2 separate regions of the Homo sapiens genome follow, and region 1 is linked to region 2. The links come from fine-mapping of genetic effects on plasma protein levels. Region 2 holds a variant in brackets. A gene starts in the other region. All regions are shown on their reverse strands.

Region 1 (3,067 bases), not on the chromosome of region 2:
AATTGGGGCAGGGCCAGTTTGGAAGGTCTCTGCTGTGGGCAGTGGAGGGGCAGAGAACAAGGCAGAGCCCAGCTAGGCCCCTACCCAGCCCATCAACTTTAACCTCTGATCCCTGACCTCCCTTCCAGGCTCTCTCCCCACTTGTCACTTTGCTGGAGCCTGGGGACCTGCATTTGTGGACATCTCTGTACACATGGCCTGTGCCCTAGCTGGGAAGGTCTTCCCAATGGGGAGCTGGCCAGTGTGGCACAAAAGCCTGCACTGGGCCAACAAGGTGGAAGGAGAAGCGGCAGGTGGACGGCAAGGCCCCAGCCTCCTTCTCTCCTCCGCCCCTCTTCCCGCCCAGGACTGGGTGGAGCCACTGCCTTATAAGTGGTGGCCTGGTGGCAGCAGAGCAAACTACAACCGGCGGCCAGCGGGACCAGAGGGCGGCTCTGCAGGCAGGCGGCAGCGGTGCCCTCAGTTCCCCAGCATGGCCCCCTCGGCCTGGGCCATTTGCTGGCTGCTAGGGGGCCTCCTGCTCCATGGGGGTAGCTCTGGCCCCAGCCCCGGCCCCAGTGTGCCCCGCCTGCGGCTCTCCTACCGAGGTACCAGCCCCTGCGTGCCCTGTTTGTGTGCATGTGCCCTGTTTGTGTGTGTGCGCTCTGTTTGGGTGCATGTGCCGTGTTTGTGTGCATGTGCCCTGTTTGGGTGCGTGTGCCGTGTTTGTGTGCATGTGCAGTGTTTGTGTGCGTGTGCCGAGTTTGTGTGCGTGTGCCGAGTTTGCGTGTGCCGTGTTTGTGTGCGTGTGCCGAGTTTGTGTGCGTGTGCCGAGTTTGCGTGTGCCGTGTTTGTGTGCGTGTGCCCTGTTTGTGTGCGTGTGCCCTGTTTGGGTGCATGTGCCGTGTTTGTGTGCGTGTGCCCTGTTTGGGTGCGTGTGCAGTGTTTGTGTGCGTGTGCCGAGTTTGTGTGCGTGTGCCCTGTTTGGGTGCGTGTGCCGAGTTTGTGTGCGTGTGCCATGTTTGTGTGCGTGTGCCCTGTTTGGGTGCGTGTGCCCTGTTTGTGTGCGTGTGCCCTGTTTGGGTGGCTTGGGCTCTTGGGTGCCTGGTCAGCTGTAGGGGAGGGAGCCTCTCCCTGCACAGCTCTCGGGGAGTGGGAGGGAGGCAGGTCCTGGGAGACAGGACCAGGGTGGCGGTGGGAGGCACCTGAGGGGGAGTGCTGAGAAAGGGACAGATGGAGACCCTGAGAGAGCTCAATAAAGATGGGGAGGAGACAGAGGAAGGGACCAGGCAGGGGAGAGTGACAGAGAGGGTGGGGCTGAAGGGTCTGTCTGGGCTCAACTGGCACTTTTTGCCCAGGGTGGCCAACGGGAGAGCAGGCAGCATGCTATCCCTTGGTCCTGGGGCCACAGAGAAGGGGAGGACCCCCCTTGCAGCCCACTTCCCAGAGTGGGCTTGTTCATGTGCTCCTGCACCCAAGAAGCGCCCCAGCCCAGGGGGAGTTTCACCTCCCCTTTTTGCACATCCCAGCCTGGGGGTTCCTGTGTTCTACCCTAGACATGTGAGCCGGCTCAGGCCTCCACGGATGGGCCCAGGGAAGGCCCGAGACAGGCTCTTGGCAGATCCTTCCTGAGGAAACCAGAGGGGTGACCACCTTCCCCTGGGAAGCCCAGTCTGCTGGGGGAGATGGCGCTCGTCCCTGGAGAGGCTGAGGGGAATGTGGTCTTGTTCCGGGAGCTGTGGTTTTGCGGGGAGGTCAGACTGCTAGAAAAAGCCCCAAATAGGGAAAGTTCCCCAAGGTACTGTCATCCATGGAGGGCTTCCCGGAAGAGACCGTTGATGAGTTTTGGGGGTGGAATGGGTGTTGGGTAGAGGTGCTTCCGTAGGGAAGGCATAGGACACTCTGGGCCTTCCCAAAGGTGGCCAGCACCCTCTTCCTGCCACATCCTACTGCCCCCATTACCTCCACCTCCCTAGCCAAGCCCGGAGGACCTACCTCAGGATCCTCAACTCCTGGGACCGATGTCCCCAGACAGCTCCCCGCTCTCATCTCTGGGGTGGGATAGCCAGCATCTGTGGGGAGAAAATTGTCTTTGGCCGCATCCCTGGACTGGAGGTGGGAGCCCTTCCCGGCCATACCTTCCCTTTTCTGCACCCAGGCCATTGCCAGGGGTCCCCTCTGCTGGGAACAGTTTCGCCTGCTGGCCCACCCTCCAGCTGAGCCAGGCGGCCTGCAAAGACTCCCGCCCTTCCTCCAGGATCTTCCAGCACTTTGCTCTAGTTTCTGCTGGTTGGGGCCTTCTTCCCTGGGGACTGGGTAGGGCACAGATGGGACAGTGGGAAGATGTTAGCTGCATGATGAAGGGCTAAGGAATGGAGGGGTGGGAGGTAGGCCCCAGGGTAGGCTGGGCCAGGTGGGAGGCTCTGAGCCTCCCGTCCCACCTGTCCCCAGGAGCCATGGTCCGAAAGCCTTCCAGCACCATGTGGATGGAAACATTTTCCAGATGTGAGTGTGTCAGGGGTGGATGCTCAGCCGGGGCCTCCACCTCCACTCCTTGGCTGGGGAACTAGGCTGAGCTGTGGCCCTGATCTGCCTCCCCATACATCCTCCTAGACCTCCTGTCTGCCAACCGCTCTGCCATCTTTCTGGGCCCCCAGGGCTCCCTGAACCTCCAGGCCATGTACCTAGATGAGTACCGAGACCGCCTCTTTCTGGGTGGCCTGGACGCCCTCTACTCTCTGCGGCTGGACCAGGCATGGCCAGATCCCCGGGAGGTGAGCTGGACTGGCAGGGAAGAGGGTCTGTTTGAGAACTGGGCACCTCCAGATGGGAGGCCAGATGGGGAAACTGAGCCTGTGAGATCAGGGGAGGACCTGAGGTCAGCGGGGCTGTGTTCCAGGTCCTGTGGCCACCGCAGCCAGGACAGAGGGAGGAGTGTGTTCGAAAGGGAAGAGATCCTTTGGTGAGTGCTGTCGGGAGGGATGGTCCCCCGACCTGACACCCTGCCCTGACCCCCAGGACAATCCGTGACCACGCCCCAGGTACCTCTACCAGGGGCATTTGGAGCAGATCTTGAGGGCTTTTGAAG
Region 2 (8,515 bases):
GAGGGGAAGGGCAGGGGCCTCTGGCTGCCATGACTAGTCCTTCAGGAAAAGCTGCTCTGTTCCCATGCCTGAGCAAACTCAGGCAGCTGTGCCCTTCCCAGCTTCCTGAGGCCCCTGCTCCATCTGAGGCTCATGAGACCTCTTCATTCTCAGCCAGGACTAGCGACTGCTCACGCGCGCACGTGGCCTTGGGTAGGGGGCAGCGTGAGTGGAAACCTTAACTAAAGGGGTGAGTATCTGATGCTGGAATTGCAGATAGTAAGTGAGGTAGAAAGGAAAGGGGAGAGAGGCATTTAGGAAGGGCCTCCTAAGGGCCCTTGAGTCAGGCCTGCAGGCAGCCCCTGGTGTGAGGGCAGGGGGAGGGTGCCAAAGTGAAAGCACACACACCCTGGCCTGCTGGGGGTTGCAGAACTGTCAGCCCCAGGGATCTGGGCATGGCCTGGAATCCCCCGAGGAGACTGAAGGAAGGTTGAGGGGTGGGAGGCTAGGATCCTCGTCCCTGGAGTCTGACACTGCTAGACACCTGGGCTTGGGTGGGCCAAAGGCAAGGCCTGACTATAGTGAGGCAGAGAGGCCCCAAGTACACAGAATGTAAGCAGGCACTCACACCATAGGTGCCTCTCTTGCCTTGGATTCGTCCAGGCACTGCCCAGGAGCTCAAGACACAAGGGCAGCCACCCTTACCCACTGCTTATGTGGCATATGGGAATATACAATATAAATATATTCTTATAATTGTATATAATAATGTTTATATATATGTAACACATAAATGTGTATTAATTCAACCCTCACAACTCTTTAAATTATCCTTAGTTGACAGATAAGATGAAAGGCAGAATAGTTGGAACAGATAGTAAGTTTGCCTCACTAATAACTTGTACACAGTCCATACTCTTAACCACGATGCAACACAATTATCACCAACACACACACACACACACACACACACACACACACACACACGAAAAAGGCCACCAGGTACTCACCCAGTTTCCTTATCAGGAACCGCCCCACAGCAGATTGGCCACAGCTGTGCCTCTGCCCACGGCCAGCCCTGTGGGATGCAGGTGGATCTCGTGAGGTCAGGGCCCCTTTTATAGCCCCATCACCACAGCTGGCTCTGTCTCCCGCCACCCACACCAGCTGTCCCACTCACCATGGAGAAGATCCTGATCCTCCTGCTTGTCGCCCTCTCTGTGGCCTATGCAGCTCCTGGCCCCCGGGGGATCATTATCAACCTGGTAAGAGGGTCTTCAGGGGAGGCGCCTCCTGAGTCCCCAGATGAAGACTTCCTAAGCTTGGACCTTGACCTCTGATGTCTCCACCTGGACTGGCAGGGGCTGGGAGGAGTGGCATCTTGCATCCCTCTGTTTACTTCCATGTCCTGTCCTATGCCTCTTCCCAGAGGCCACAGGAAAGGCTGATCAGCCCCTCTCCAGCTCCAACTGGAGCATGCTCAGAGCAGCAGCTCAACCTGGCTATGAGGGACCTTTTTTTTCTTTTTTTTCTTTTTGAAACGGAGTCTTGCTCTGTCACCAGGCTGGAGTGTAGTGGCACAATCTCGGCTCACTGCAATCTCTGCTTCCCGGGTTCAAATGATTCTCCTGCCTCAGCCTCCCAAGAAGCTGGGATTACAGGTGCCTGCCATAACGCTCAGCTATTTTTTGTATTTTTAGTAGAAATAGGGTTTCACCATGTTGCCCAGGCTAGTCTCAAACTCCTGACCTCGTGATCCGCCCACCTCGGCCTCCCAAAGTGCTGGGATTACAGGCATGAGCCACCTCACCTGGCCCTACGAGGGAGCTTTGTAAAAATCCAGAGCCCTGGGCTTCCATCCTGAGAAAATGCTTTGCGCCAATCATTCCAGCTTCTGACTTATGGAGATGCCTCGGAGATGTTTACTCATTCTGTTCTCATAATAACCACTGAGGGAGGTGTTTTCAGAGTCAGCCCTGTCTTCAGACAGAGAGAGGGTGAGCAACCTGCCTGAGGTCACATAGCTGGAAAGTGGTTCAGCTGGGGCCCCACCACTGCCCCACACCACCTCTCCACCATGGGTCTTGGCTGGGAAAGCCCTTCCAGAACGTCCATGCGGTTGAAAGGTTCTGAACTCTCTTAACTTGGGGCCATGGCTGGACTTGGAGGTCCAGGACCCTTGGAGATTATAGATCAGATCTGTTGGGGGAGGAAGGAGTCTTGCAGGGAGATGCAATCTTCACCGCCTCCTTAAAGAGGTGTGGGACCCAGAGTGGTTTGGAGAACTTGTCTAGGGGCCTTGTGTGCACATTCCAAATGGGAACACTGAGGCTTGGGAGGCAGTGACTTGCCCAGAGTCACACAGGAGGTTGGTAGCACAGCCGGTACTAGAACCCAGGGGTCCTGACCCTCTGTGCAAGTCTGCTTCTCTGTCACCGCATGCCCACTTCTCACGTGGGTGGGGGGCACAGAGGCCACCAGACCCAGGGGATGGACTCCTTCACACACATCCCTACCAGGGGAGACACTGTTAGTGGTAGTGTGTGGTGGGTACAGGTCTGAATGGAGAAGGGACCTGAGGGAGTGGGGCCTGGGCTGACTGGCTGCTCCTGGCAGGAGAACGGTGAGCTCTGCATGAATAGTGCCCAGTGTAAGAGCAATTGCTGCCAGCATTCAAGTGCGCTGGGCCTGGCCCGCTGCACATCCATGGCCAGCGAGAACAGCGAGTGCTCTGTCAAGGTGGGTGCCTGAGGACTTGGCGTGGGTGGGGGAGAATGGGGAGTAGGGCCCTGAACACTTGTGAGTGGGATCAGGGAGGGGGGTCAGCCTGGACACTGAATGTTGAGGAGACGAGAGGGAGGTCGACAGGTGTCAAAGCACTTTCCCATCCCATCATCTCTCTTGACCCTCCCGAGTGACCAGTGAGATGGGTGGGGGTGGGGATTTGTTATCCCCATTTCATGGCTGGGTAAATAGAGGCTCCCCAGAGAGATCAAGCTAGTAAGAGCAAATGAGCCAGAGCAGAGGTCAGAGCTGGGGTCTCCAGGGCCCACGGCACCCCTGGGGAGGCAGGTGGGAGAGGCACTCCCCGAAAACACAGGCTGGCCTACTGGTTCTCTAGGTCAGGCAGGGGACAAGTGATGTCCAAAGTATCTCCCCATAGCCTTGACTCCATTGGCTGTGTCTCTGCAGACGCTCTATGGGATTTACTACAAGTGTCCCTGTGAGCGTGGCCTGACCTGTGAGGGAGACAAGACCATCGTGGGCTCCATCACCAACACCAACTTTGGCATCTGCCATGACGCTGGACGCTCCAAGCAGTGAGACTGCCCACCCACTCCCACACCTAGCCCAGAATGCTGTAGGCCACTAGGCGCAGGGGCATCTCTCCCCTGCTCCAGCGCATCTCCCGGGCTGGCCACCTCCTTGACCAGCATATCTGTTTTCTGATTGCGCTCTTCACAATTAAAGGCCTCCTGCAAACCTTTCCCAGTCTCCTGCATATTCTTTCTGACTCAGCATCTTCTCTGAAGTTGCATCAGGCCTTTGGTCCACCAGGGCAGGCTTCAGGCAGGTCAGAAGAACAAGGGATGGGTCTGGGGCTGAAGAAGTTGTGGCCAAACAGATTGGAGACTGAAGACAAAGCTGTGAAGGAGACCCAGCCAGCCTAGGAAACCCTCCATTTCTGGGGAGAAGTCACACCTACCTGGGATGCCCTCCTTGTCCCTCCGGTTCTCAAAGAGACAAGCGGGCACATGTGCATGCGCGCGCACATACACACACACACACACACACACACACACACACACTTGTGGGTAAGGAGTTTTAATGGCCCATGTTCGTCACCCTGCATCAGAGGCATCAGAATCCTGGGCTCTCACCTCTTTTCTGGACACAATTCTCAAATATGACAGCTAGCTGACACAACTCATGTGTTAAGGGGTCAGACCACTCTCAATTGCTATGAGCTTACTCTCTGCCAGCAAATGCTCACAAGGATCCCAGGAGGGAGAATTTCTCATCTCCACTTTATAGATAGAGACCAAGTTTCAGAGAGGAGCTTGCCCAATGTCACATAATCAGAAAATGTTGGCACTCTACCATCTAACTCCACTGCCCTGCTTCTATGATTCCTTTTTTTTTTTTTTTCTGAAACAGAGTCTCTCTCTGTTGCCCAGACTGGAGTGCAGCGGAGTGATCTCTTGGCTCACTGCAACCTCCACCTCCCAGGTTCAAGCGATTCTCCTGCCCCAGCCTCCCCTAGTAGCTGGGATTACAGGCGCCTACCACCACGCCCGGCTAATTTTTGTGTTTTTAGTAGAGACGGGGTTTCATCGTGTTGGCCAGGCTGGTCTCAAACTCCTGACCCCAGGTGATCCACCACCTCAGCCTCCCAAAGTGCTGGGATTACAGGTATGAGCCACCGTGCCCGGCCTTATGATTCCTTTTTCTTTCCCAATTATTCGCATTAAGAAAAATGGGTGGAAACTGCAAGGAATTTAATTTTGCCTTAATATAAAAATTGTATATCCCCTGGAGCCATCAAACATGAGTTACCTTAG[G/T]CAGTACTGAGGTGCCCATCATCCAGGTACGCAGGTGGAAGCTCACTGACCCCTCGGTGGAGATGCTAGAGAGGAGATTCCCACAGAGAGTGAGGGACAGTGAACTGAATGAAACTTCGATGTCGTCCCAGCCCCAGGATCTTGCAGTTCTGTGATCAATGAATCCTCCTGTAACCACAGGCTTATGAGTTAGGATTGCATTCAACTGTGAGTAGCAGAAAAACCCAAGTAATTATGGCTGAAGCAAATAGGAACGTATATTTCTCATGAATCCAAAGCAAAGACACAGGAAGTGCTGGCATTCTTTTGGTGGCTGGTAGCTCTTGACCTTCTCTTCAAGGTTGCCACATGCCTTAGCAGCAGCTCATGACTTCACGTTCTCACCGTATTCGAAGGCAGGAAGCATGGAGTAGCTGGCAGCTGGGAAGGCGGGAGAAGGAGCAGAGAGTTTCTTCTTGCATACCCTTTTTTTTTTTTTTTTTGAGACAGAGTTTTGCTCTTGTTGCCCAAGCCAGAGTGCAGTGGCACGATCTCGGCTCCCTGCAACTTCTGCCTCCTGGGTTCATGCGATTCTCCTGCTTCAGCCTCCCAAGTAGCTGGGACTACAGGCGCCTGCCACCACGCCTGGCTGATTTTTTGCATTTTTAGTAGAGACAGGGTTTCACCATGTTGGCCAGGCTGATCTTGAATTCCTTACCTCAGGTGATCCACCTGCCTCGGCCTCCCAAAGTGCTGGGATTACAGGCATGAACCATGGCACCTGGACCATACCCTCTTCTTATCTTTCCTCAAATCCTCAAGGCCGACTTCTCTTCATATCTCAGTGGCTAGAACTAGGTTATCTGACTACTTCTAGCTGCAAGGGACGCTGGGAAAGCAAAGGGAATAAGATCCTTCTCCTGGGGCCAGGTTCATTGATGCCCAAACAATATTGGGTTTCAGTTGGCAGGGAAGGGGGCAATGGCTATTAGGAAACCAGGTAATGGTGTCTGCCACATATGAATTATGTGCTCAACAAGAGGAGCTTTCAATACCTTAACCCAGGAGGGGTCTCAGGCCCTGAGCAGGGCTGAGTCACGCTTCTTGGTGCCACATTCGGTCCTGGAGATCTGCATTCATGTCCCCTTCATGTGTTCACTGAATGACCACAGTGTGCCTGGCACCGTGTTTTGGACTGTGGGGGGCATAAGGAAAATGTCCCTGGTCTTCAAAAGTGAGTAGGGAGTTGGGCTTTGGGCTCTGCAGAAGCAAGTGACCAAGACCCCAACCATTATGTAGCTTCCATTTTATTTCCAACGGCCAGTGCTCCTGTAGACTCTCAATTTCTGCTGCTTTTCAGCATCACACGCCTACACAGCAGAGGCACAGTCTAACCACAGCTCAAGGAACCAGATGGTCCCCACTTACAATGGTTTGACTGACAATTTTTCAACTTTATGATGGTGCAAAAGCAATATGCATTCAGTAGAACATCAATAAATTACATGAGATATATTCGACACTTTATTCTAAAATAGGCTTTGTGTTATTTTTCCCAGCTAATGTAAGCATTCTGATTGAGCACATTTAAGGTAGGCTAAGCTAAGCTATGATATTCAGTAGGTTAGGTGTATTAAATACTTTTTTTTTTTTTTGAGACAGGGTCTCACTCTGTGACCCAGGCTGGAATGCAGTGGCATGATCATGGCTCACTACAGCCTTGACATCCTGGGCTCAAGTGATCCTCCCACCTCAGTTCCCCAAGTGCTAGAACTATAGGCGTGTGCCACCATGCCTGGCTAATTTATTTATTTATTTATTTATTTATTTTTGTGGCGGGGGGAAGATGGAGTCTGTCTCTGTTGCCCAGAGTGGAGTGCAATAGTGCGATCTCGGCTCACTGCAGCCTCTGCCTCCCAGGTTCAAGCAATTCTCCTGAATCAGCCTCCCGAGTAGCTGGGACTACAGGCACATGCCACCACGTCCAGCTAATTTATTTATTTATTTATTTATTTGTATTTTTAGTAGAGATGGGGTTTCACCATGTTGCCCAGGCTGGTTGCGAACTCCTGAGCTCAGGCAATCTGCCCACCTAGGCCTCCGAAAGTGCTAGGATTATAGGTGTGAGCCTCCATGCCCGGAGTTAATTTTTATATTTTTAGTGGAGATGGGGTTTCACCATGATGCCCACACTGGTCTTAAACTCCTAGGCTCAAGCAATCCGCCCACCTCAACCTCCTAAAGTGCTGGGATTACAGGCACAAGCCACCACACCTGCCCATTAAATGTATTTTCTTTTTCTTTTTCTTTTTTTTTTTTTGGAGACAGAGTCTAACTCTGTCACCCAGGCCGGAATGCAATGGCACGATCTCGGCTCGCTGCAACCTCCGCCTCCCGGGTTCAAGTGATTCTCCTGCCTCAGCCTCCCGAGTAGCTGGGATTACAGGCGTGCCCTCCACGCCCAGCTAATTTTTGTATTTTTAGTAGAGACGGGGTTTCACCATGTTGGTCAGGCTGGTCTCGAACTCCTGACCTTGTGATCCGCCTGCCTCAGCCTCCCAAAGTGCTAGGATTACAGGCGTGAGCCCCCGTGCCCGGCCTATTAAACGTATTTTCAACTTACGATATTTTCAACTTAAACAATGTGTTTATCAGGATGTAGCCCCATCGTAAGTCAAGGAGCATCTGTACTTTATTCCCTACAAATCTCTCTGGATTCTGACAACGGCAGCCTCTACCAATGACCACTTTTCCCATAGGGCAGCGGAATCCCCATGGCTTGTGAAGGGGTCTAGAGAATGCCACTGAAGCATAAAAATTATTCTGAGCAGAAGGCATTTGAAAATGGGCCTTTTTCTTTTCTTTCTTTCTTTTTTTTTTTTTTGAGACAGAGTCTTGCTCTGTCACCCAGGCTGGAATGCAGTGGTGCGACCATGGCTCACTGCAGCCTCAACCTCCTGGTGCTCAAGTGATCCTCCTGCCTCAGCCTCCTAAGTAGCTAGGACTACACGTGCGTGCCACCACCGGCTATGTTGCTGTTGTTGTTTGTTTTCAGACACAGGGTTTCGCAATGCTGCCCAGGCTGGATGAGAATAGGCTCTTTTCTGAACTCCTTTGTCTGCCTAAATGCAGAGCCCTGCAAAAGAGCTCCATTGTCATAAATCCCCCTCCCAGGAGTTTCTCAAAACCAGGGAAAATTGACTTATTGCTGGAGGGGAGAATAGTTGGCACCACACCTAAACAGTCAGGTCACGAAACTATAATAGCTCCCATCTTTTCTCCTAAGGGCCCATTCATCTTTCCTAAAAATTACTTTTCTATAAGTGTCCTTTCTCCTCCTCCCCTTCTTCTATTGAGATGGTACATAACCCGCAAATTCTAACTTCCTTCTAGAGTCACACTCTTCCATGAACTTCCCTACATTCTGAATAAAAATCGGTCATTTCTCTTTTATCGGTTTAATTCTCAGGCCTTCAAGTACTGAACCTAAGAGGATAGAGGAAAAGTTTTCCTCCCCCAACACTTGGAACCAGTTTAGTCATGTCAGCAACGTATCTTCCCCAACTCCCTTTCTTTTTTGTTTCTTTTTTTTCCTTATTAGGCTAAAAACGTTTATTAAAAAAATTAACAACTTTGTTTTAAAGCATTTTATATTCCTGGATGAAAATATCCAATATTGGAAAAAAGTGAAATTTCAGCCGGGCACAGTGGCTCATGCCTGTAATCCCAGCATTTTGAGAGGCTGAGGCAGGATTGCTTGAGGCCAGGAGTTTGAGACCAGCCTGGGCAACATGGTGAGATCTCCCCCTCCCCATCTCTACAAAAATCTTAAAAATTAGTTAGGTGTGGTAGCGCACACCTGTGGTCCCAGTTACTCAGGAGGCTGAGATGGGAAAATCACTTGAGCCCAGAAGGATGAGGCTGCAGTGAGCTGAGATGGAGCCACTGCACTCTAGCCTGGGTGACAGAGTGAGACCCTGTCTCCAACAAAACAA

Which allele goes with the higher level. Positions count from the first base shown, and alleles are read on the strand shown. Strength reflects both the effect of a copy and how common the allele is.
For the plasma level of the protein whose gene starts at base 397 in region 1, T is the high allele of the variant in region 2 and G is the other (moderate association).

What was found. PIP is the posterior inclusion probability: the model's chance that the variant is causal. The UK Biobank Pharma Proteomics Project read protein levels with antibody pairs (Olink). The fine-mapping took linkage between variants from a reference panel, not from the people measured, so its PIPs are less certain.
Region 1: it holds the start of SEMA3G, and the variant in region 2 is fine-mapped to the plasma level of the SEMA3G protein (UK Biobank, PIP above 0.99).

What each region holds. Positions count from the first base shown.
Region 1 is chr3:52,442,433-52,445,499 of GRCh38, reverse strand. SEMA3G (semaphorin 3G) reads left to right here and starts at 397. Exons shown (of 16, transcript NM_020163.3): 1 at 397-587; 2 at 2,593-2,753; 3 at 2,879-2,941. The coding sequence starts at 473. RefSeq lists enhancers at 1-423, 424-1,300.
Region 2 is chr6:35,789,934-35,798,448 of GRCh38, reverse strand. It overlaps CLPS (colipase), which reads left to right and starts at 1,126. Exons shown (of 3, transcript NM_001832.4): 1 at 1,126-1,244; 2 at 2,596-2,718; 3 at 3,172-3,467. The coding sequence starts at 1,161. The coding sequence ends at 3,303. It also overlaps a transcript of CLPSL1 not described here. The variant G/T (reference allele first, on the strand shown) is at 4,542.